Regions from separate parts of the Homo sapiens genome. Here region 1 is linked to region 2. Evidence: fine-mapped expression QTL. A gene starts in region 2. The other region holds a variant in brackets. All regions are shown on one strand. Distances are between the middles of the regions.

What was found. PIP is the estimated chance that this variant, and not a neighbour inherited with it, causes the effect.
Region 1: its variant is fine-mapped to the expression of FAM131A in whole blood (TOPMed, PIP 0.99).

Annotation. Positions count from the first base shown.
Region 1 is chr3:184,307,025-184,319,157 of GRCh38, reverse strand. It overlaps EIF4G1 (eukaryotic translation initiation factor 4 gamma 1), which reads right to left and starts at 4,552. Exons shown (of 33, transcript NM_198241.3): 1 at 4,484-4,552; 2 at 3,613-3,669; 3 at 3,302-3,395; 4 at 2,940-3,026; 5 at 1,661-1,837; 6 at 1,342-1,441. The coding sequence starts at 3,361. PSMD2 (proteasome 26S subunit ubiquitin receptor, non-ATPase 2) reads right to left here. Exons shown (of 21, transcript NM_002808.5): 17 at 11,633-11,801; 18 at 11,450-11,544; 19 at 11,142-11,268; 20 at 10,591-10,709; 21 at 10,108-10,450. The coding sequence ends at 10,268. RefSeq lists enhancers at 3,283-3,904, 4,629-5,129 and silencers at 3,742-4,451, 4,472-4,801. The variant C/T (reference allele first, on the strand shown) is at 4,558.
Region 2 is chr3:184,332,638-184,345,086 of GRCh38, reverse strand. FAM131A (family with sequence similarity 131 member A) reads right to left here and starts at 7,487. Exons shown (of 6, transcript NM_144635.5): 1 at 7,369-7,487; 2 at 6,558-6,700; 3 at 3,270-3,363; 4 at 2,839-3,021; 5 at 2,227-2,343; 6 at 1-592. The coding sequence starts at 7,456. The coding sequence ends at 117. It overlaps EIF4G1 (eukaryotic translation initiation factor 4 gamma 1), which reads right to left. Exons shown (of 33, transcript NM_198241.3): 33 at 9,734-10,360. The coding sequence ends at 10,179. RefSeq lists enhancers at 1-238, 239-991, 4,163-4,242, 6,334-6,945, 10,254-10,403 and silencers at 8,744-8,813, 8,737-8,937, 8,854-9,283.

The sequences.
Region 1 (12,133 bases), 26 kb after region 2:
AAGATGAAGAAAAATTAATTCCTTAAAGCAAACTATCTCCAAAGTGGGTGAGTTCTTTTTTCCCCTTAATTTTTTTTTTTTTTTGAGATGGAGTCTCACTCTATTGCCCAGGCTGGAATACAGTGGCACAATCTTGGTTCACTGCAATCTCCACATCCCGGGTTCAAGCGATCCTCCTGCCTCAGCCTCCCGAATAGCTGGGATTACAAGAGTGCATCACCAGGCCTAATTTTTGTATTTTTAGTTGAGACAGGGCCAGGCGTGGTGGCTCACGCCTATAATCTCAGCACTTTGGGAGGCTGAGGCAGGTGGATCACTTGAGGCCAGGAGTTCGAGACCAGCCTGGTCAACATGATGAAACACCATCTCTACTAAAAACACAAAAATTAGCTGGGTGTGGTGGCACACGCCTGTAATCCCAGCTACTCGGGAGGCTGAGGCAGGAGAATCACTTGAACCCAAGAGGCGGAGGCTGCAGAGAGCCAAGACTGTGCGACTACATTCCAGCCTGGGTGACAGAGCGAGACTCCGTCTCAAAAAGAAAATTAAAATAATAACAATAAAATTTAGTAGAGACGGAGCTTCACTATGTTGGCCAGGCTGGTCTCGAACACCTGACCTCAAGTGATCCGCCTGTCTTGGCCTCCCAAAGTGCTGGGACTACAGGCGTGAGCCACCGTGCTCAGCCCCCCTCAAATTTTAAAATAGAGACAGGGTCTCACTAAGTTTCCCAGGCTGGTCTCAAACTCCTGGCCTTAAGCAGTCCTCCTGACTCCCAAAGTGCTGGGATTACAAGCAAGATCCGGGCACATTCTTTAATTTCATCCCTAAATTCCACTTGTTTTTGACAAGCACAAGTGTATTTGTTTAAATTTTGCATACATATAAACAAAAACATACATGTATGAGAGATTCATACTCAAAACTTTTCCTGATAGGTGATCAAAAAACTTGGAAGCCACTGCCATAAAGAACAGACTAATCCTTCCCTAGAACATAAATAAAAAATAGCTACAAAAACCTCCCAAATTTGCATTACATGGGCTCCCAACCATGGAAGAAGTGTCACAGGGAAAGCCTACTAATAGGCTCTCAGGCTGGTGCCTGATCCTACATTCCCTGATGTGGGAAAGACTCTTAACTCTCCTGGCAATAAAATCAAATTTTCTCCCCACAATCAACACCAGTTAAATATTAAGCACCAATCCCTACCACCTATTAACCTTATCATTTTTAGACCAGAAGCCAAGCCTGGGAAGGGTCTTCTGCTTTAGAAATCAGCAGATGAGTTTAGATGCTCCCTTGGGCTTGTTCTCACCTCTGACTCCCTCCCCTGCTTACCGTAGGTCCCAAATTCTGTAGGGCTTGCACCTGGATAGAAGCCTGGGGCTCCTGGCTGCACAGGGTACTGCTGTGTCGGGACAACGTATGTGGAACGCCCCTGGTGGGGAAGGGGGAGAGGGAGAGAAGGAGTTGAGGGAGCTATGAGTTCCATATCAGACTCCAAAAAGAACATAGGTCAAGACAAGACAAGCCAACTCTGGGCAATGACCAGAAGGAAGTCCCACCTCTGGAAAAGCAATGGAACTGGAGGGTCAGGGTGAGTTAAGTGAGAGGTATAGGGGTCTGTGGCTTCTAGGCTCCAAGCCCCCAGCCTCACCTGTCCAGGGATGTAGTAGGCCCCCTGGGAGGCTGGGTAGGAGATCTGGGAAGGGATCATCATTACTTGGGATCCAGCAGGGTAGACATGGGCAGCTGGGCCAGGGCGGGCAGGGGCTGCACTCTGCACTCGGGAGGCTGCACTGCTCGGGGGCTGGGCCCGGCTAGGGTAGAAGTGCTGTCAGGAGGGAGGAAAGCAGTTGGCATTGTAAAGAGAAGGAAGTGGACAAAAAATTGCCACTCCACAATGTCTCTATAGCCTGGAAAGAAGTACTGTGGGCTTCAGAACATGGCGACCAATCCTTCCAAGACCACTTGACCAAATGGCTAAGCGGCTTCTTGTACACACACATGCCCTCCAAACCTCCAAATTCAGATGTACACTTTGCATCCTGCAGAGATTTACTCTCTCACTGCCATGCATACACACGTCACCTCTACCAAACTACCCCTCTGCAGAGGCTTCCTAACACCGAGATGCATCATGCCTAAGTAAGGCCCTTTCGGGCAACATATCCCCAGCATGCACTGCTCCACCAGCATGTAATGAGGAGCTAACCATAACATGCAACAGCATCCCAGTCCCCAGATGCGCGTTCTTCAAGATGTAGCCCCTAACATGCATCACTCGGCCTCCAACTGAGAACCTGGACACCAAACAAGTCACTACCCTGAAGATCCCCATTCCCTGTGTCTAGCCCCTGACTAGGGTGGAGGGTAAGGATGAGACCAGAAGACTGTCCAGGGTTGGGAAAGGGATATTACCTGCAGAGACCTGAATCCTCCCTGAGAGCACATGGGGATAGGAAAGAAGAGAATTACCCCCAAGGTGATGGCGGGGGGAGGGAATGAAGGCAATAAGACAGGACAAGAATCCTCCCACTTAGTAAGGAAGAAGCTGGGGAACAGAGAAAGGCAAGGACCAGCTGGAGTGTTTACCTCACCACAGTCCAAAGAGAAAGCAGAGAGAGCAATAGAGCAATAGCAGCCTCCGGTAAAAGGAGCAAATAGGAAAGCAAGAGCTGGCAGCAGGGCCCAAAGCACTGCCCCCAATTCTCAGAGGCACTAGGATCCCAGTAATGCCACCCTCATTGACAACATACTATCCAAGGGACCAGCCACCGTGAGTAATCAACAGGGCAAGGCGCAGAGCCGCATGAAAGAACACAGAGGATTAAGGCCAGGTATGGGGCCTCCAGTTTCCATCCTAGACCTAAACTGGCCAAAGCTTTCCACTGCTCCCACCCAGGTCCCCTACTCCCCTCCCCACAGCCCCTCACCTGGCGGGGCTGAGAAGGCGTGTTCATTTGTGTCGCTTGTGGCGTACTGAACACCACCGGCGCTGTCTGCCCCGGGGGAAACGCTGGCTGAAGAGGGGAGACCAGAGTTCAGCAAGAGGGGAAGCCCAGGTGGGGCAGAAACCCAAGCTGGTGAAATAAGGGGAGCAGATCTGCGGCAAGAGCCTTAACAATCCACATACCCCCTCCCCGTGACAGCCCCCGGGGACAGCCCAGGGGCCCTGTCTCAATTTGGCAGCAGGCGGCTGCACTTTGCCCTGACACAGATGGGGGTAGGAAGATCCAGAGGCTGGAGACTGCCTGGTCTCCCCCACCCCCACCCCTGCTAATTCCTCCCTAATTACCTGTGGGAGTCCGGGGGATGGGGCGGGTGGGGGGCCTGTGGACTGTGGAGCTTTGTTCATTTCATTTGGTGCCACATCAGGGTCCCCCCAGCACCTGTTGGGAAAGAGTGGCGCTCAGGAAGAGGAAGGGACCCAAGCTTAAGGCAAATGGGGCGGTGAAAGGGTTGATGCAAGGGCTGGGTCCCATACGGAGTCCCAGAGATGCCAAGAGGGTGAAGCAGAAAAGATACAGCCTGTCCCCACCAACATGCTGTCAAACCCGCATCACTTCCAACCAACCCCTGACCTACTGAAACAGACCCCTCACTCACCCCCTCGATTAAGAACAAGTCCACGGTGCGGCCTACAGGTTCTGGGCATCCGAGGGCCTGGGGTTGGGAGGTGAGGGTATCAACCTGGCTCCGCGGGGCCCCAGACCAACCAGACCGGAAATTCCAGGTCTCGCTGGCACCAGGCTCCCGGATCACGAACGGAGCTAGCTGCTTCGGCCGTGGCGTCCCCACCCCCCACCCGGGGACACCGGGTTCGGGCCTGGCCCAGGGGCACACAGGATACGCCTGCCGCCGGGGAACCCGCACTGGGCCAGAAGCTAGGCCTGCCGCCGCCCAGGAGTGTAGGCCAGGAAGGGCGGGAGTCAGGCCCTAAAAGGCCAGGCGGGCGGCGGCCGTCGAGGAGCCGGTTTCAGGCAAGTGAGGGTCGGCCCGGAGGGCGGGCGGGGCCGGGGGCTCCTCCCTGCCCGCCGCCACCGCCTCCCTCCCCTGCGCCCTCCCTGCGCAGCGCGGGCCAGTGCCAAAGAACAACGTGTCACTTCCCGGCGGCCTGGCCGCGAAGGGGGGAGGGGGCGGCGGGCCGGGAGCCGTGGTGCCTGCGCCCGTGGGCTGCCGGGCCTCCTCGGGTCAGGCCGAGGTGGCATTTCGCGGCGACGAACCCGGCGCCCTACCAGCCCGCGGGGCCCGCATAGTCCGGCCCTGCGCTCCCCACCCCCACCCAGCAGCCAGGCCCGGCCGGGCCAGGCACACGTGGGCCGGGGATCGGGACCCTGGCGGGCCGGGGCCCTGGGTCGGGCCGCGGGGCCAGGGCGCCGGGGCGGCGGCGCAGGGTGGCCGGTCCCGGCCCGGATGGCGGCGGATGCGGGGGGAGGGGGTGGGGGGGCCGGGTCGGGCCCGGACATGGCGGCTTTACCTTCAGTCTCCTTCAGTCCGCGCGGCCGAGCCCCACGCAGCCGCACAGACGTAGTCCACAACCATTTCCGGCTC[C/T]CCGCACAGATCCCGCTCGGCGGCCACCGCTTCTCCGCAGGCGCAGCCGGCGCCCCCACGTGACCGGCGCAGGGGGCGGAGCCGCGCCGGGCGATCTGCGCCGCCGAGCACATGGGATTTGCCCCCGCCCCGTCACGTGACAGCCACAGCCCGCCCCCGTGTCCCCTCCCGAACTTTGAAACTCCCAGACCGATTCCCCTCTGTGTTTCTCTCTGTTCCGCGATTCTTTAGTTCATTCATATTTTAAGCAACCATTTATTGAGTGCATGCTAAGTACAAGGCGAAGTGCTGGTTGAGGGCTGAGAAACTGAAATCAAAGTCTCGGCAAAAAAAAAAAAAAAATAAGCGGGGCGCGGTGGCTCACACCTTAATCCCAGTACTTTGGGAGGCCGAGGTGGGCGGATCACGAGGTCAAGAGATCGAGACCATCCTGGCCAACATGGTGAAACCCCGTCTTTACTAAAAATACAAAAATTAGCCGGGCGTGGTGGCGCACCCGTAGTCCCAGCTACTTGGGAGGCTGAGGCAGGAGAATTGTTTGAGCCCGGGAGGCAGAGGTTGCAGTGAGCGGAGATTGTGCCACTGCACTCTAGCCTAGCCTGGCGACAGGGCGAGACTCCATCTCAAAAAAAAAAAAGAAAGAAATTAAAGACTCCGTCCTGCCTAAGTAAATCGTGATACAATACGAATTATGCAGGCTTTGAAAATAATTTAGATTAGGTCATTGAAAGGCCAATAACAAAGGAAATTAAAAGGATAGAAACATTCTAATTAGGCAAGTAGTATGAGATTTGTAGTTTAAAAAGATCATGGGCCGGGCGCAGTGGCTCACGCCTGTAATCCCAGCACTTTGGGAGGCCGAGGCGGGCGGATCACGGGGTCAGGAGATCTAGACCATCCTGGCCAACATGGTGAAACCCCGTCTCTACTAAAATACAAAAAATTAGCTGGGCCTGGTGGCGCACGCCTGTAGTCCTAGCTACTCGGTAGGCAGAGGCAGAGAATTGCTTGAACCCGGGAGGCGGAGGTTGCAGTGAGCCGAAATTACGCCACTGCACTCTAGCCTGGCGACAGGGTGAGACTCCATCTCAAAAAAAAAAAAAAAGAAAGAAAAAAAGAAATTAAAGACTCAGTCCTGCCTAAGTAAATCGTGATACAACACGAATTATGCAGGCTTTGAAAAGAATTTAGATTAGGTCCTTGAAAGGCCTATAACAAAGGAAATTAAAAGGATAGAAACATTCTAACTAGGCAAGTAGTATGAGATTTGTCGTTTAAAAAGTTAGAAACATTCTAACTAGGCAAGTAGTATGAGATTTGTCGTTTAAAAGGATCATGGGCCGGGCGCGGTGGTTCACGCCTGTAATCCCAGCACTTTGGAAGGCCGAGGCGGGCGGATCACGGGGTCAGGGCGGATCACGGGGTCACCATCCTGGCCAACATGGTGAAACCCCCATCTCTACTAAAATACAAAAAATTAGACGGGTCTGGTGGCGTGCGCCTGTAGTCCCAGCCACTCAGGAGGCAGAGGCAGAAAACTGCTTGAACCCGGGAGGCAGAGCTTGCAGTGAGCCAAGATTGCGCCACTGCACTCTAGCCTGGATGACAGTGAGACTCTGTCTCAAAAAATAAAAATAAAAATAAAAAATAAAGGCAGGCACGGTGGCTCACGCCTGTAATTCCAGCACTTTGGGAGGCCAAGGCAGGCAGATCACCTGAAGTCAGGAGTTCGAGAGCACCCTGGCCAACATGGTGAAACCTCATCTCTACTATAAATAGAAAAATCAGCCAGATGTGGTGGCAAGCACCTGTAGTCCCAGCTAGTGGAGAGGCTAAGGCAGGAGAATCGCTTGAACCTGGGAGTTGGAGGCTGCAGTGACCTGAGATCACAACTGCATTCCAGCCTGGGCAACAGAGTGAGACTCTGTTTCAAATAAATAAATAAATAAATGAAATAAAATATAAAAAGAGCAGACACTCCCACGGAGGGGCAAAAGCGTAAGGATGGAAGAATAAGGACAGAAGAGAAGTAATCTTAAAACTGACAGCCGGTCGGGGGCGGTGGCTCACGCCTGTAATCCCAGTATTTTGGGAGGCTGAGGCAGGCGGATCACCTGAGATCGGGAGTTTGAGACCAGCCTGACCAACATAGAGAAACCCCGTCTCTACTAAAAATATACAAAAATTAGCCAGGCATGGTTGCGCATGCCTATAATCGCAGCTACTCAGGAGGCTGAGGCAGGAGAATTGCTTGAACCCGGGAGGTGGAGCTTGCGGTGAGCTGAGATCCTGCCATTGCACTCCAGCCTGGGCAACATGAGCGAAACTCCGTCTCAAAAAAAAAAAGAAAAAGCTGACAGAGGCCAGAAGGGACCATCATCTACAGCCAAATCCACAGGTCAGATTGCTTGAGTTTTCATCCAAACTCTGATACTTATTACCTGGCCAGAATTTGTTAACTTTCCCTACTCAATCAAGTCCCCCAAATATATTGTTGCTTACGTAATAGATAGTGCCTAACCTGAAAATCTGGGATTCATCCTATATTCCTTCTCCATCCACACACTACATCTAATCAGACACCAGGTCTTACTGGTATTTGGATCAAAATCAAGTCCTATTGATCTTATCTTTTAAAAAATAACTATTCTACCCTTCCCTATGTCCCCATTTCAACTGCCTTAGTTCAAGCATTCATTTTCCTTGCCTGCTCTCCTGTCCTCCAGGGTTAGCTTTCTCACCCAGATAGCTGATCATGTCACTTTTCTGCTCTCATTCAGTGGGCCCCATTGAAAGATACTGTCAAATTCTTAGCACAACAAAGCTCTTGTAAACCTAGTCTGAGCCTGAATTTCCAGCTGTATCTCCTACCACCCTTTTCCCTGGCCCCTATACATTTAGCCAAACCAAATTATCTGTAAGTTTCTGAAAACAGCTTTTCCTCCTTCTTGCCTTTGCTACTCCCTTAGCTATATTCTGCCCTCTTTTCCTCTGTACAAACTTATCTTCCTCTAAGGATATAAGCTTCCTCAAAGTCCCCCGATTGCCCCAGGCACTTAGGCCCCATCTCAGTGATACCAGGGTACCTTGTTCACACCCTGGTAAGTATCGATCACAGTTGTTTTCATCATTTCATTAAACTTTTTGAGCATAGGGGTTTTTTTCTGTATTTGCATCCCCATAAATTAGACGAATGTCTGATGCAGAGTAAGGCTCCACTGCTATTCACTGATGAATGAAGAACTAAAGGTGAAAGGTTAAAAGCCACTATGAAACTGTCTTATTCTAAAGCACAATCACCTAAATCACAATTTGGGAGAGAATCATTCTTTTTAGTTTACAAATCACTTTTTATTCTAACATCACCACCACTGGAAATCAGGTAAGGCAACTACTATATCCACATTATATAATAACAGAGGCTCATCACATCACACATGCTAACTTGAAGATTATGGCAGGAACCATAAAGGGGCTCAACAGGGATTCCTTAATCCTGTTTCAACCTTTTTATACAGGCTGCCAAGATGACTCAATCCAAAATTGCTGATGTCTCATGCCTGTAATCCCAGCTACCTGAGAGGCTGATGTGGGAGAATCACTTAAGCCTAGAAGTTCAAGGCTGCAGTGAGCCATGATCATGCCACTGCACTCCAGCCTGGGCCACAAAGTGAGACTTTGTCTCTAAAAAAATTTAGTAATAAAATAACTGGGCCAGGTGTGGTGGCTTACACCTGTAATCCCAGCACTTTGGGAGGCCGAGGCAGGTGGATCACAAGGTCAGATCGAGACCATCCTGGCCAACATGGTGAAACCCCGTCTCTACTAAAAATACAAAAATTAGCAGAGCATGGTGGCGCATGCCTGTAGTCCCAGCTACTCAGGAGGCTGAGGCAGACAGTCTCTTGAACCCCAGACGCAGAGTGAGCCGAGATCACGCCACTGCACTCCAGCCTGGGCAACAGAGCACGACTCTGTCTCAAAATAAATAAATAAATAAATAGCCAGGCATACTGGCTCATGCCTGTGATCCCAGCACTTTGGGAGCTGAGGTGGAAGGATCCCTTGAGGCCAAGAGATTGAGACCAGCGTGGGCAACACAGCAAAACCCCCACCTCCACAAAAATAAAAGTAGGCCAGCTGTGGTGGGTCATGCCTATAGTCCTAGTTACTACTTGGGAGGCTGAGTCAGGAGGATCACTTGAGTCCAGGAGTTTGAGGCTACAGTGAGCTATGACTGTGCCACTGCACTCCAGACTGAGTGATAAGAGTGAGACCATTTCAAAAAAAAAAAAAAAAAGCCAGAAGTGGTGGTACACACCTGTAGCCCTACCTTACCTGCTTGGGAGGCTGAGGGTCAAGCCTTCTTGAATCCACTTTCTACAAGGACATCCTAGAAGTAGATGTTAACATGATCAAATTCCTCATAGCAGCCTCCCAAGAGGGACAGATGGTTGCGGGAGGTAAAGATGTCCTTTTCATTCAGTAGCACGTAAGTCAAGTTAGAAAAGTATGAGGCTGCCCACTCTTGGGCATCCTTAGCCCAAGGTCAGAAGATGATAGGCTTGAAGAGGGTGTATTGGTGGTGGAGGGTGAGTGTGGGGGGTTATTTACAGGATCCACAAGCCCCCTGAAGTTATTTGGAAGAGTTTGTGTAAAAATTTGTGTATTTGCGTCTCCTAGGAAGAATATCCATTGGCTGGGCACGGTGGCTCACACCTGTAATCCCAGCACTTTGGGAGGCCGAGGCAGGTGGATCATCTGAGGTCAGGAGTTCGAGACCATCCTGGCCAACATGGTGAAACCCCGTCTATTAAAAATACAAAAATTTGCCGGGTGCGGTGGCTCACGCCTATAATCCCAGCACTTTGGGAGGTTGAGGCAGGCGGATCACAAGGTCAGGAGATCGAGACCATCCTGGCTAACATGGTGAAACCCCGTCTCTACTAAAAATATGAAAAATTAGCCAGGCGTGGTGGCAGGTGCCTGTAATCCCAGCTACTCGGGAGGCTGAGGTAGGAGAATGGCGTGAACCCGGGAGGTGGAGCTTGCAGTGAGCCAAGATCGCACCACTGCACTCCAGCCTGGATGACACAGCGAGACTCCATCTCAAAAAAACAAAAACAAAAAACAAAAATTAGCCGGGCGTGGTGGCAGGCACCTGTAGTCCCAGCTACTTGGGAGGCTGAGGCAGGAGAATGGCGTGAACCCGGAAGGCAGGCGTTGCAGTGAGCCGAGACTGCCTCACTGCACTCCAGCCTGGGGGAGACAGCAAGACTCTGTCTCAAACAAAACAAAACAAAACAAAAAGAAGATCCATTACATTTATTGGCTTCTCAAGGGTTCTAAGAAAATGCAAAGAGAAGATGATTAGAAAGGAGGGGCTTAGTTTTTTCCACCCAGGGGAGGGAAGGGGCTCAGTTCTTTCCATCCAGGGCAGTGCTGCTAACCTAAACTCAGCGTTGCTCCTAACAATGCCCTCTCACTTCCACTCCTTACTCTAGTTTAGACTCCAGCCATGACACCCCAGAAAACAGACACAGAGAGACCTTGGGGATAAAAGTCTTTATTGAACAACCTTATCTCACTCAGTAACAAAAGAGCAGGAGGCGACAATTCCCCCAGAAGTCTGCAGCCGTGTCCACCCTTGGCAGCAGGATGCATGGCCTGCTGATAACATCAGCTGCAGTTCAGAGCCCCTGGTGGTCACTTAGAGATCATAATTGGGGTTCTTCCGAAGGATAACAAAACCTTCCAGAATGGGGGTAACAGGAAGAAACTCCTCAGTGGCCAATTCTGCCCGTTCCCCGTGGGCCAACAACACTGGGGTTGTATGCGTCTGGAACCCTGTGATAGTCTTCGGCTTGCCAGCCTGGCCCACCACATCCACTGCCTGTAGGGTAAGAAAATTGAAAAGAGAGATGGAAAAGTAGCGACAAGCCACCGCCCACGCCAGTTTCAGCAAAGCAAGTATATGTACATTCTCCAGTTTGAGAATACAGCCTGAGCCCTCCCCTCTACTCAGCCTCTCACCTGGCCCACACGGACAGACACTGGCAATGGCCGCAGCTCCTCATCAAACGTAACCAGCATTCGGGGCTGCATGGCAGCCACCAGCCCATACAATACATAGTGTGATTTGCCTAGAATAACTGAGGGAAGCAGACAGGACAAAAAGTTAAGAGACAAAAAGACAGGCCTGGCCAGAAACATTGAGAGCCCACCTCAGCGCTGACCCTTTAACCCGTCAGTCATACGACTGAATCCACACTCCTCCCCTCATACACCCTACTACGAACCAGAGACGCCCCCACCTCACTTTGCTTACAGCCCTTAGACTTGAAAATCGCATTTCCCCAGTGACTTAGGAGCAGACGCTGGGCACATCACCCTCAAATCTCTTTGGGCCAGATCAAAAGTGTGGGTGATGAAAGTCTCATGTCACAGGCCCAAAGCCTGTCTCAGAAACCTAGAGCGATACAGAGCTAAACTGGGGTCTTGAACCTAAATTATCAAAGTGGCCCTGGAAAGGGTGGAGTCAGAGCCCTGCATGCTATGATATAAAATTTCTGACAGGAACTCACTGTTTCGAACATCCAGGAAAGAGACAAGCACAGTGAGCAGTCCAGCCACGGCCACCTGGCTCATAAGCTGCCGGTCGCTGTGGTAGGGGCAGAGGGTAAGGGTGCCCTTCCCTAAATGTGTCAGGCCCTGAAAAAAACAGAGGGAAGTAGAGGTGAGGAGTTACCACTGAGGAGACATCGCCTAACCCAGCCAAACAGAAATCTCCCACTTGGTCACATCTTTCCTCCTGGGCCAACACTCCATGTTCCTCCTTCCATCACCACAGATACTTCCCCGGCACGCTCTGTGGAGGAGTTCTATTCTTTACCTGTGCCAAGCGCACCATGAAGAGGTTGTTTGGGTCCTTGGCATGATATTGAGCTAACTGGCGCAGCATTGCAGCCAGACGGGCATTATTGGTACCTGGAAATGTTAAGCATTACAGAAGTGAAAAAAGGGGCTTCAAATCTTCCCCCAATCTGTTTATGACCTTCTTCTGCCGGATACTCACCACTGCCCACCATGCCCATGGCAAAAATGGAGTTATAGGAAACTTCTGGATCAGCATCATGAGAGAATTTGCTTAGGGTATCCAGGATGTTGAGTCGTGGATTTGAAACAGAGATGAGGGCCAGTGCTAAAGGTACAGCCCTCCGGAGTGTAGGCTCCCCATATCTCAGCTGATGATCCAAGAAAATACAACAGTAAGGCGGAATGCAGTAAAAACAAATTCCATTACAGGAGTGGACTGATGGGTAAAAGGGGGCCTTAACTTCTGTAGAAAAGGCACAGCAGGCTGGGCATGGTGGCTCATGCCTGTAATCCCAGCACTTTGGGAGGCCGAGGCAGGTGGATCATGAGGTCAAGAGATAGAGACCATCCTAGCCAACATGGTAAAACCCTGTCTCTACTAAAAATACAAAAATTAGCTGGGCATGGTGGCATGTGCCTGTAGTCCCAGCTACTTGTGAGGCTGAGGCAGGAGAATCACCTGAACCCGGGAGGCAGAGGT
Region 2 (12,449 bases):
CAGGAGCCCTCTAGGCTGTGGAGCTCTGCTGGGAGCCTTGAGCCCACACTTGGGCACAGAGGCTCTGCCCCTGGCAGCAGCCGGGGGATGCATGCCACTGCCAGGCATGATGTGGGTCACTGTTCCTCTGGCTCTGCCTCATCCTCATCTAAGGACACCACCCCAGAAGAGGCCAGGTCAGAGGCTTGCCGCTGCCGTTCCCAGCTGCCCGTTAGTGGTGGGCAGAGTGGCTGGCAGTCCTTGCAGGGGGCTGGCTCCTCCTCCGCGGGGGAAAGGCAGGACTCTGTGAGGGGCGAGTTGTAGAGTGAGTCCTGGGCCTCCAGTGGGCCCAGGCTGCGGAAGGCACTTTCCCGGCTGGGGGGCAGTTTGGCGAGAAGCAGCTCATCGCCCAGCAGCTGGGAGGCCAGCCGGGCCGGGGAGCCCAACAACCCATCCTCCAGGCTGCACAGACTAGAGCACAGGGTGTCTGGGGACACGGTCTGTGAGCAGTCGCTCTCAGGCTCCACGGAGCCCTGGCGCACAGGCCGGGAGAACCGGTGGCCGGTGAACAGGTCCTGGAGGTGCGGCCCCAGGGGCAGCTGCCCAGCCATGTCTGTGAGGAGAAGAGAAAAGAAGACAGTCCTGCTGGCTCCATTTCAACTGGACAACCTGGAAGCCACATTCACCCCACTCCACCCCTGGCATAGCTCTAGGGGTGGATAGGTGCTGGGTAACCTTGAACCAGTCACAACTTTTTGAGACCTCAGTGTCCTTAATGGTGAGTTGGAGATTCTAACAATACAAGAACAAGAGTCTCGCACACAGGTGGGTGCGGTGGCTCACGCCTGTAATCCCAGCACTTTGGGAGGCCGAGGCAGGTGGATCACCTGAGGTCAGGAGTTCGAGACCAGCCTGACCAACATGGAGAAACCCTGTCTCTACTAAAAACACAAAATTAGCCGGGCGTGGTGGCACATCCCTATAATCCCAGCTACTCGGGAGGCTGAGGCAGGAGAATCACTTGAACCTGGGAGGCGGAGGTTGCAGTGAGCCGAGATCGTGCCATTGCACTCCAGCTTGGGCAACAAGAGTGAAACTCCGTCTCAAAAAAAAAGTCTGGCACACAGTTAACAAGCAGTAAATGCAGGGTCACCGCCTATGGCCATACAGGTTGCTCATCGCACAACAGGGCCTGTCCAAGGCAGTGAGAAATAGCAAAATCTAACCCATACTCTGCTCACCAAGCAGCATGCCCTGGCCTGCCAGAGAAAGGCTGTGCCTGCCAGAGAAAGGGGTGCCTTTTTCTAATTTGCACAAAGATTCCACACAGGCTAGTAGCAGCCTTGGATAAATGTTAGTTATTATCATTACCCCAGGGGTCAAAGTAGGCCTGGAACTCAATCAAACAAAAATGCTTGTGGTTTAAGGTTCCATCTTGGCTTCAGACAACCAAATCAGCCCTCCAGACCACAGCAGCAGTCTCCAACCTGCTCTCATGTATTGCCTGCTTTGGAGAACTTGTTAATTCACTGGAGGGGTATGGGATGGTAGAGGTAATCTTCAAAGGCAAAGAGGTTGTGGGGAATGGTGGCCTGTGAGACTTGAGCCCAGAAGCTACAGAGAAAGTCAGCCATGTGGTCTAGGGAATGAAAGATGAAAGGAGGGCCGAACACAGCTGCAGAGCCCTGCAGGGTCCCCTCTGCAAGCACTGGCCCAGAGAAAGGCCCACGGGCTGGAATGCAAGGATGCTGAGTTGGAGCCAGCATGGCCCCGTGGGTGTTCCAGGCCCAGCATGCCTTCCTGTTGACCTGGGCTGCAGCCCTGCGAGGTGCTGGGCTGTGCACTGCAGCTCATCTGCCCTGCCACAGCCAGCCAGAAGGCTGCCTCGGAGAGGAAGAGGCAAAGGCACTGCAGACCCTCCCAGAGACATGGCTGCACAGAAGGTGTCCTTGAGGTCTTTCGGCTTTTTTTTTTTTTTTTTTTTTGAGGACTGCAAGGCACAACTGTGCAGACAGGCAGAGAAGCCTCAGCACCTGTGGGAAAGGAACGAATCCATTTCTGTCTGCTCATTTCCCACCCATGAGTGTGGACAGCCTTCCTGTCCCTGGAGTGTCCAGGCCTGCCTGGACTGAGTCTGTCCCTCTCCCTCCCCTTGCAAAGGCTGAGAGTGTTCTGGATGTGGCTCTGAAAGAATGCCAAGGTCTATCAGGTGGGTCCACCACAGCCCTAGCCCAGGATGTCCCTCACCTGTGTCCATTCCCCCAGCAAAGTCCTCATCATAGGAGTCATCAGTGGAGTCCTCGCCATCCACCGAAGACCATGCTCGGAGCTTGGCTTCCGCGATGGCAAACTGCTCAGCCACTCCTGTCGCAGGGACAGAATGCATAAGCAGAGAAGGTGAGCTAAGTCTAGGGCTCAGCTTGAAGACAGGAGAGAGGAGAAACAGGGTATGGGAAGACTCCAACCCCCATGTCAGACCCGAGGAGATAAGAAAGCAGCCCTGGCCGGGTGTGGTGGCTTATGCCTGTAATCCCAGCACTTTGGGAGGCCGAGGCAGGTGGATCACTAGGTCAGGAGTTCAAGACCAGCCTGGCCTAGACGGTGAAACCCCATCTCTACTAAAACTACAAAAATTAGCCAGGCACGGTGGCAGGCAACTGTAATCCCAGCTACTTGGGAGGCTGAGGCAGGAGAATCGCTTGAACTGGGGTGGCAGAGGTTGCAGTGAGCTGAGATTGCATCACTGCACTCCAGCCTGGGCGACAGAGTGAGACTCCGTCTCAAAAAAAAATTAAATAAAATAAAGAAAGAAAGCAGCCCTGTGCCAAGAGTGTAGCTTATCCCCTTTCTGCCATCCACCTGCTGCAAAGCGAGCCTCTTGTTCGCCCTCGCTGAGGTCTGAATAGGAGGAAAAGGCTGATTCCAGGGCAGCAGGTGAGTCACTCGGCTTGCTCCAGCCCTTCCACTCAATGAGGTGAGCCACTCGGCCCTGGGCCATGGCGGTAGGCTTGGTCACGTGGTCCTTCACCACCTGGGAAATACCTGGAGATAGGGGAGGGTGGAGAAGCCTGGTAAAGGACCAGGCCAGGGAGCACAGGTGCAGGGAGGTGGAAGGGTGGCAGTAGTTAGGATCCATGTGAACCTTTGGGTGGGAGAAGGGGCTGAGATTCACCTGAGCAAGGGAAGAAAGGGGAGACCCCAGCATGTACTCACAGGAAACAGTTCCAAAGGGATGTGCAAACGGGAGGAGAAAGGACAAAGTGGCCAGAAACATGGGAGGGGCTGCATACCATGCAGGGAGGACCTGGCCAGCGCAGCGATCTCCTGGATAGTTAGGGCTCGCCGGGACTTGGGCAGCATCGCGACTGTGTCTCCAACATTCACCTTGGGTAACACCATTAGAAAGTCAGTGCCCCTCTGACAGCAATGACCTTCCCCCTAACATGCCCATACCCAGCAAAGGCATGAGGAGGAGACAGGAGCTAGGAAGGAACACCACATATGTCCCAGTGGCTACAGGGAAATGTAAGATGATAAGAAGCTAGGACAGGTGAATTATGTCCTCCCAGAAAGCAATGGAGATTCAGACAGGCCCCGAGAAGCAAAACTTCAGCTAATCCTCCACTTTCCCAGCACCCAGAGGAGATGGAGGCAGGGCAGGAAATGAAGAACCACGAGTGAGACCTCTGAGGAGAGGGAAGAGGAGGAAGGAAGAAGAGTGTGGCATCCAGGACTTCTTTAAGATTCCCTTCCCCTCTGCCCCTTGCTCCTCCTCTTGGTCTTCCCATCCACATTCCGGCAGACTCGGCAAGATGGAAACCAAACCCCCACACCTTCTCCCCACGTCTGGCCCTGCTTCCTGACCTCTTTCCTTTGCATCACCCACCACTGTCCCATCTAGCCTGGCTCCAAACCTCAGCATTACCATCAATTCTCCCCTGGCTTTGCTTGCCCATATCTGTTGATAAGACCTAATGATTCCACCTGCAAAGTCCCTGCTCCTACCCTGTCCTTTCTACTGCTACTGCCATTGCCCTTTCTCAAGCCCTCAATGCCTCCTGCCCAGGTCGGCAGAAGTGGTGTTCCCCCAGCCTCCTCCAATCCCATGCTATTTTCTCAGGCCAAAGTGTAGTGAGTGTAGTGCTCCCCATCTCTTCTGGACTATTCTGATGGCTGGCTAGCTCTTTCTCATTCTTCCAGTTTGGGCTGAAATACCACCTCGTCAGAGGAGCTTTCCTGGCCCCCCTCTTGGTAGTCTGTCCTCCCTCTGTAGTCTCTTAACAAATCACTCTCCATCAACGTACCCCATTTGTGGCCCTTAGTCATAGTGAGTAATAATGGTCTCTTTTGCATTTCCTGTTTCTTGTTGGTCTCCCTCACTGGTCTTTGGCTCTTGGGGAATTCAGTCTGTTTTGGTCACTGTAGTGCCCAATGTTTAGCACAGCACCTAATACAGAATAATTTCTTAAAAATGCATAGGCTGGCCAGGCGTCAGTGGCTCATGCCTGTAATCCCAGCACTTTGGGAGGCCGAGGTGAGCGGATCATGAGGTCACGAGTTCAAGACCAGCCTGGCCAACATGGTGAAACCCCGTCTCTACTAAAAATACAAAAATTAGCTGGGCATGGTGGCACGTTCCTGTAATCCCAGCTACTCAGGAGGCTGAGGCAAGAAAATTGCTTGAACCAGGACCCGGGAGGCGGAGGTTGCGGTGAGCCGAGATCGCACCACTGCACTCCAGCTTAGGCTACGGTGCAAGACTCCATCTCAAAAAAAAAAAAAAAAAAAAAAAATGCATAGGCTGGGCCAGGCGTGGTGGCTCACGCCTGTAATTCCAGCACTTTGGGAGGCCAAGGGGCCAAGGTGGGTAGATCATCTGAGGTCAGGAGTTTGAGACCAGCCAGGCCAACATGGTGAAACCCCATCTCCACTAAAAATAATTTAAAAAATGGGCAGGGCATGGTGGCGGGTGCCTGTTATCCCAGCTACTCAGGAGGCTGAGGCAGGAGAATTGCTTGAACCCAGGAGGCGGAGATTGCAGTGAGCCAAGATTGTGCCACTGCACTCCAGCCTGGGCGACAGAAAAAGACTCTGTCTCAAAAACAAGCAAACAAAAATGCAAAGGCTGGATGAATGAGGTAAGATATAATGTAAACAGTTTTCCTGGAGTGCAGCTGGTCACAACACATCTCTAAAATCTTGTCTAGCCTACGCTACTGTCCAGTGAGGTTAGTGCAGGCATCATACCCAGGCCCTGAAGGATCCCACTCTGTGACACCCTTGCCTCCTTCCAAGCCTCCTTTGAATCCACTGCTGATCTCCTCTGCCCAATAAAACCCCCCTTCTCAGGCCGGGCGCAGTGGCTCACGCCTGTAATCCCAGCATTTTGGGAGGCCGAAGCAGGCGGATCACCTGAGGTCGGGAGTTGGAGACCAGCCTGGCCAACATGGTGAAACCCCGCCTCTACTAAAAATACAAAATCAGCCGGGCGTGGCAGCGCATGCCTGTAATCCCAGCTACTCTGGAGGCTGAGGCAGGATAATCGCTTGAACCCCAGAGGCAGAGGCTGCGGTGAGCCGAGATCGCACCATTGCATTCCAGCCTGGGCAACAAGAGCGAAACTCCGTCTCAAATAAATAAATACATAAAAATAAATAACAAAAAACAAAAACCCTTCTCCACCAATCCCTGTCAGCAAGCAGCCCGCCTGCCTCCAGGAAAAGGAACTCAGCTTTCCTCTGGGCCAAGAATGCCATCCTTACGTGAAAAAATGCTTGCCATCACTTAAGGCCCATCTCAAGTGTCACCTGCAAATAATGCTTTCAGCCGACAGCCTCTTCTTTTCTCTGACACACCCCGCCCCCATCATTGCCCTTGTCTGTCTCCCGAGGGAGCTCAGGATGGCAAGGCCTAAGTCTGATGCACGTAAGTTCCTAACTCCACCCTGTACCTGGCTCAGGGCTCCCTGACAAGCCCCAGCAAATGTTTCCCTCACTTAATGAAGTTGGAGGCACACATCCCTCCCCGGCATTGCCCAGCTCTCTTCTATCACGTTCCCGTCCCTCACAAGGGCAGCCAACACTGCCCCTTGACCTGAGGCCCACCCTCGATCCCTCCCCTTGGGTACCTGGCTGACAGGGCCCCCAGGGTGGCGCCAGTAGCCTCCAGCCAGGCCTAGGCGGGGGAGCACCTGCTGGGTGTTTCTTAGCTTGCTCTCCCTCCCTCGCTTCGCTCCCCTCAGCCGCCGCCATCCGTGCCCGGCGCTCCGCGCAGCTGCGGCCCAGGCCCAGAGAAAAGGTGTATGTCTCCCTGGCAACCCATCACCACGCAACAGGGTCTCCCGGGATACGGCCCGGGATGCGCTGACGTCAGCGCGGAAGGCGCGAGCTCTCCGCCTGCTGGCACAGCGCCGAGCAGAGCAGACCGGCACGGGGGCGGCCTCCCGGCCCGCCGCCGGATAGCGCCTCCGCCCGCCGGAAAAGGGAGCCAGAAGCTGGCTGGCCAGGCGTGGGTGGGGGCTGCAGATCCCCTTTATATGGATGACGTCCTCCTTCCCCCCACCACCAGGGGCCCAGCACCTCTGGCAAGTCCTGACTGTCCACCGAGGAAGGGCGGGAGGACCTGCTCCAGCCTCGGAGGGTTCGAGCAGATCCCAAAGAGGATAGAGAGAGACCCCGAGGAAGTTCGATCCACTCCACAGCCCAAGCGGGGTCCGAGGACACTGAGAGGAAGGGGAAAGGCTGTTGAGCTGTGCCCCTACTTCTGCAGAGATCCCCATTTTCATCCAGTATTGCCGTATCATTTCTCGGCCCCTCCCCCACCTTCCAGAAGACCAGCGCCCACTGAGTGCTCTCCTCAACTCTAAAAGCCCCCATCCCACACATCACTGACCCTCGGGCCCCTGGGGCCATTCTGTGGCAGCCCACTTGCCACCTTCCTGCTCTGGATAAATTTTGCCTCAAAACCCTAGGGTGAAACCAAACAATGATAAATTCTGACTCTCCTTCCCGTTTCCCAGCCTACCCATTCCTCTTGGAAAGCACACTGAGTTCTTCCGCCATCACTGTCCCCCCCACCACCGCCACCCTGGACCCTTTGCAGGAGGGTTGCCTTCCTTCTCTCTTCCTGCTGCCTTCTTTCCTCTCGCCAGCCTCAGCTGGTCCACAGCTCTTTACTCTTCTTTTCTGACGAACTCATGATATTTTTTCTGATTTTCACCCCTGTCCCCTGAAGCCGTTTCCTGATGCCCTGTCTGGCCCCAGCCTGGTTCTCCCTGTTTCAGCCTGGTTCTTAATATCTAAGCCAGAGTAATTTTCCTTTTCCACCTAAGCACCCTACTGCTCAGCTTCCCATCATCTCCCAGATCACATCCATGATCCCTGGTCTCACCTCTGCGACTTGTCTGACAAGTCCATCGTCCTCCAGGCCCTTCACGCTGCCACAGAAACATTTTGCCCAGCACAGAAATCATAGGCATGCTGGCTGTGTTGATGCAGAGAACCAAAAGCCCAGAACCGCTCCAGGCTCAGCTCCCAGTTCTATTCCTGTTTTGGCTCCGGATGCTGAGCCAGTCCCCTCCCCATTTGGAACCTGTGCCTAGTCACATAAGGAGAACATTCCTGCCTCATGGCTCTGAGGAGGTGGGAACACCAGGGCTCAGCCAAGCTCTCTGGGACTCGGGGAGCTGAGGCCCATTCCCTAGACAGTGCCAACAGGCAATGTACATCACAACTGACCTTTAGCTGGAGCAGCCGTCTCTATCCCTGAGCCTCGGCCAGCTGTTGGTCCCCAGAAATGCTACCAACCAGAAGGAAAACAGGAGGTTACAGGCCATCCCTGGCCCCCAACTGGTACCTAACCAGGGCTCTCGAGGCCAGTCCTGAGGTCAGCCAAACTCACCCCTGACAAGAGAAGGTGATGACTTCCTGAACTCCAAGCCTTGATAGGGCCAGAGAGATCAGAGCAGTCAGCTGCTCCTCAGCTTCAAAAGCCACGAGGTTAACTTAGGACTACAAATCCCAGAATTCCTCAAGGGAAGTACAAATCTCAGCCAGTCTTAGCTCCAAAGAACATCAAGTACCAACCACACCAAGGCCTGTGTGACTGACCACCTGCCCTGAAGGTCCAGGACCCATCCCAAACCCAGTCCTGCCTTGCCTTATGCGTGGAGAAATCCACCACACCGGAGTAAAGGAAGCTGGCCGACCTCTGATGCACAGGACTACGGCCAGGCCCGGTGTGCATGGCCACCCACGGAAACCGAGGCCCAGGCAGGGGTCAGCACTGTGGGAAGGAAGCCCTGATGGCCTGCCTCTGGGTTCCTCTTTCCCTCCACAGAGTAGAGTGATTTGTTTTTGCTGAGTGGGGGCAGGACATTAAAACAACTGTAATAGGTGAGAGGTGATTCAGTGTTCACAGGTGCCCCAAACGGGACCTCAGTCCCCCTTCGCCGACTGACTGAAGAGGGGAGTCAATGTCCGACAAAAATTCTGTGGTAGGGTGCTTAGCCAGGACCGAAAGGCTACCTCTTTAAGAAGATGGGGACACGGCTGGGAGAAGCAGGTTCCCAGCACAGGGCCACTCCCAGGACTGTGAAGGCAGAGGTGTAGGCGGAGGGGAGTGTGTGTGTGGGCGCGCAAGGCCAGTCGCCGAGGGCTGGAGTGGTGGGGGCATCGGGCTGCCCAGCCCCTCCCGGGGCTGTGCGTCTCCGGCCACCCTGAGCAGTGGGCACACGGCAGCCAGCGGCGAGACCATGCGTCTGCCCTGCAAAACCCCAAGGCAGGCAGGCCGTGGGAGCGAACCGGAGTCGGTCTGGCCCCTTCCCTGCTCATTCCCGCTCCCTCCTGTTGCCTGGCCCGCCTCCCGGTGCAGGCTCCTCCCTCTCCCGACACCGGCCCCCTCCTCAAGGCCCCCACCCACCCGCGGCCCGCGCACCGGCGGCCGCAGCCCGACTCCCCAACCCGTACCCGGCCTCCGCCTCTTACCCTGACCCGCCGGGCTCCGAGAGCCGATACAGCCCATGGCCGGGCACCCAGGCACGCTAGCCTGCGCTCGGGGCGCGGGCCATCGCCTTGCAGAGGGTAGGGTCGCGGCCACACTGGGGAGGGGAGAGCCCGTGAGAGGGGAGGGGTGGGAGCCGCGCGTCCGCCGCCGCTCCCCGGAGAGGGAACCGGGCCGGTGACGTAAGCGCGGGGGCGTGACCGCCGCGTCACCACCCAAAGTAGGCGGGGCGCAGCGACGTCACAGCCACGCAGAGGCGGCCTGGACCGGGTTCGAAAATGCCGGTCCTCTCCTCCCAGAGCCGACTGCCACCTGAAGGCAGGGGCGGCGAACACTCACTAAGCCAGCCCAGTCACACTACACGGGGTCGCAAAACCTCCCTTCATGCATCCAGCCCCTTCATTTTACAGATGACACCTTCAAGCCATAAAGGGATTCTCCAGCTATAAACAACCCGAAACCCAAAAGCCTTCCCCACACAGGGGCTTGAATCATTCTGGTAGGAGAGCAGAGCCTAGCAAGGATGTCCTATCACTAATCTCCCTTTTCTCCGGACCAGGAAGGCACCTATCAAGCCCATCTGAGGGCCCAACCTTCCAGGAAACCTCAGATCCCTGCAATCATGGACAGGGGAAGAGGCAGGAGGGGTGCCAGGTTACAGGGAACAGCGCTACAGTACCAGCTCTGGGAAGGATCCCCACCTATAAACACCTTCTCTAGAGGGAGCAGGGCATAAAGCAGAAAGGCAGTGAGCTTAATTGAATTCATGTTTAATAATTACAGGCACCGTGCCCCCCCTTCCCCCTGCCCAGGCAACAGCAGGGGTGGTACAGGGGCTGGGGCATATGCCCCCAGCAGCGAGGACGGCAGTCCCGAGAGTGATTTTCAGAAAATAAAAAAAAGGACCCCAGGGGCAGGCGTTGGTGCCCCTCCCCACCCCAAGACACACCAAATTTCAAGACTTTATATATAATATATCTCTGTGCCCCAGGGGGAGGAGAGGGACACCTGGCGGCATCCTGGAGGGGGGCCCAGGCAGCCCCAAGCCATCCTGCCTCTTCAGCCACTTTATTAGTTCAGACACATCACACTACAGGCACCCACTGCCACCGCCGCTGCTGCCGCCCCCCTGCAGTCCAGGCGGCTAGCCGGGCCATCTGTGTGTCCATGGGGCTCCAGGTCCCCGGCCCCACCAGCCCTCAGTTGTGGTCAGACTCCTCCTCTGCTTCACGGAGCCACTTGAAGAAGGCTGTGACAGATTTAAGGGCCACACCCTTGCCCTGCTGCTCAGCGGGGTCCTTGCTACTCTCCCAACTGTAGAAGGCATCCTCCTTCACCACGTCCTCGTCATACAGTGCGTCAAAGAACATCCGCAGCAGGTCTGCAAGCAGGCGGGACAGCAGTTAGAGGTGACTGGCCACCGCCACCCCAGCCCACCCCAGGGAACCCTCCCAAGTTCCACTGTTCAAACAAGGCCCTGATGCACCAGCCTGACATTTGTGGCCATTCCAGAGTGACTAGGCCTCTGACAGGATGCTAATCTCATGATCTGAGACTGCTGCACAGCAATGAGTCACTTGGCCATCAGAAAAACCTTACAAACTTGCTTGGCCTCACCTTGGCAGCCTGAAACCTCTCTGCCCATGATGTATTTAATGGAGAAAACTATATTCAGAATTGGTACTCCTGAATTCAGGAAATCGCTAAAAGTCCTATATATATCATACATAAAGTCCTATATATATCCTACATGTAACCTGAACATTCACTGCCCCCCAAACAGATCCTGACAACTCCTGATCTCAATTTCCCTTCCTTCCCCACACATTTCCTGTACATACACACCTTCTCTGGCCTTGACACTTTTGTGGATGCTATATCCTTTGCCGGAAACTTCCTCGTGTCTTGTTCCTTCAGGACTCAACTCAAGCATCACCTGTTCGGGCCCTCTTTCTCCTCAACCCCTAGCTGCTGGGTAGCCTTCCCAAGCAACGTGTCCTATAACCCCTGAAACACAACCGACCCCAGTGCCCACAAGGCACCACCAGTCTTTCCAAACCAAACCTTACACTTCTAAGCCATCTATGAGATGCTGCCAGCCAGGATGTTCTGCAGGGCATGCCCAGCCTCAAAGTCACAAACTGCCTAGGGGCACAGTCACCTGCTACCCCCACCCCATAGCAATGGGCCATAGCAGGGCAGAACCTTCACTTAACCCGTACCTACACTCCAAATCCCACACATACCCACCCAGGGACCCCATCCAATCGATTATGCACTCTGCCCTGTATTTTCAAGCCCAAGTTTCTCTAACCTAAAAACAAAAAGCCCTGTTTTCAACCACTATCTTACAGCTAATAAAATATTTTGTCTACACTTGATGTTTTCCCTTCTTTCTGTCTCACTTAAGTATTTCTCAGTCCTTTCCAATCCAGAATCTGTCCCCTGCCCCACTAAATACTGTTTTTGCCAGGGTGGCCTCTATGTTTTTATATTCCAAACATCCTGCATTTTCAGGCCCACTCCTACAAACGCTCACAGCAGCATCTGGCATTATCAACCACATCCCTCTCCTCAAATTTCTCTGTCCTTGGTTCAGAGGGGCCTGTCCTCCTTTGGTCCCTACCAGTATGTCCGCTCTACCTCCTTGGGGCTGTATCTCAGGCCCTTATCACTCTCCCTCAGGCAAGCCCGTATCCTCTTATGACTTGCACATGAGTTACCCTGTGCCGGCATTTCACAAAGCTGCCTCCTGCCCTGATCTCTTCTTTTCCAAAAGGACCCAGATACCCCAGCTATTGAGCTGACATCTCGATTCCCTTACTCAAGGACCACAACTCAACTTGATCCACCGTTGCCTACCCCAGCAAATGACATCACACTATGGCCTCTAAGCCCACTGTGATTTAAAAACCATCCTGGGAGTCATCCATGACTTCTAATCTCTCACGGCCCCCTCCCCAGACCAGTGTAACCAAAAGCTGCCAACTCCATTTCCTAAGTATCTCTTGATCTGCCTACTCCTCTCCACCATCACCAGCAAGGCTGAGCCACTGGTGCTAACACTGCCACATCCACTCTCACCCCATTCCAAACCACTCTTCCCTCTATTGCCAAGATGATCTAAAAACTAAAATCAAATTCCTTTATTCCTTGCTTAAAATCCCACAAAGGCGTTTTCTTGCCCCCAGGCTAAAGCCCCAGACTCTGGCCATGGCTTACACCCGGCCCTGTGTGGTCAGGCCCACATCCCTCTCTTCGGCCCCATCTTGCCTCACTTAGGACTGGTTGCTGTGCTCTCCCACACTGGCCTTTCTTTAATAGTTCTTTTCCCTGTGTCAAGTTCTTCCTACCATAGGTAGAAAGAACACACATAGTGCCTTCGCTTCAAACATTCTCCCCCTCCCCTTCCCAGTTGTTGTGGAGTGAATTACCACTCATTACCCCTCAGACCAGGTGTCCTCCCTCCG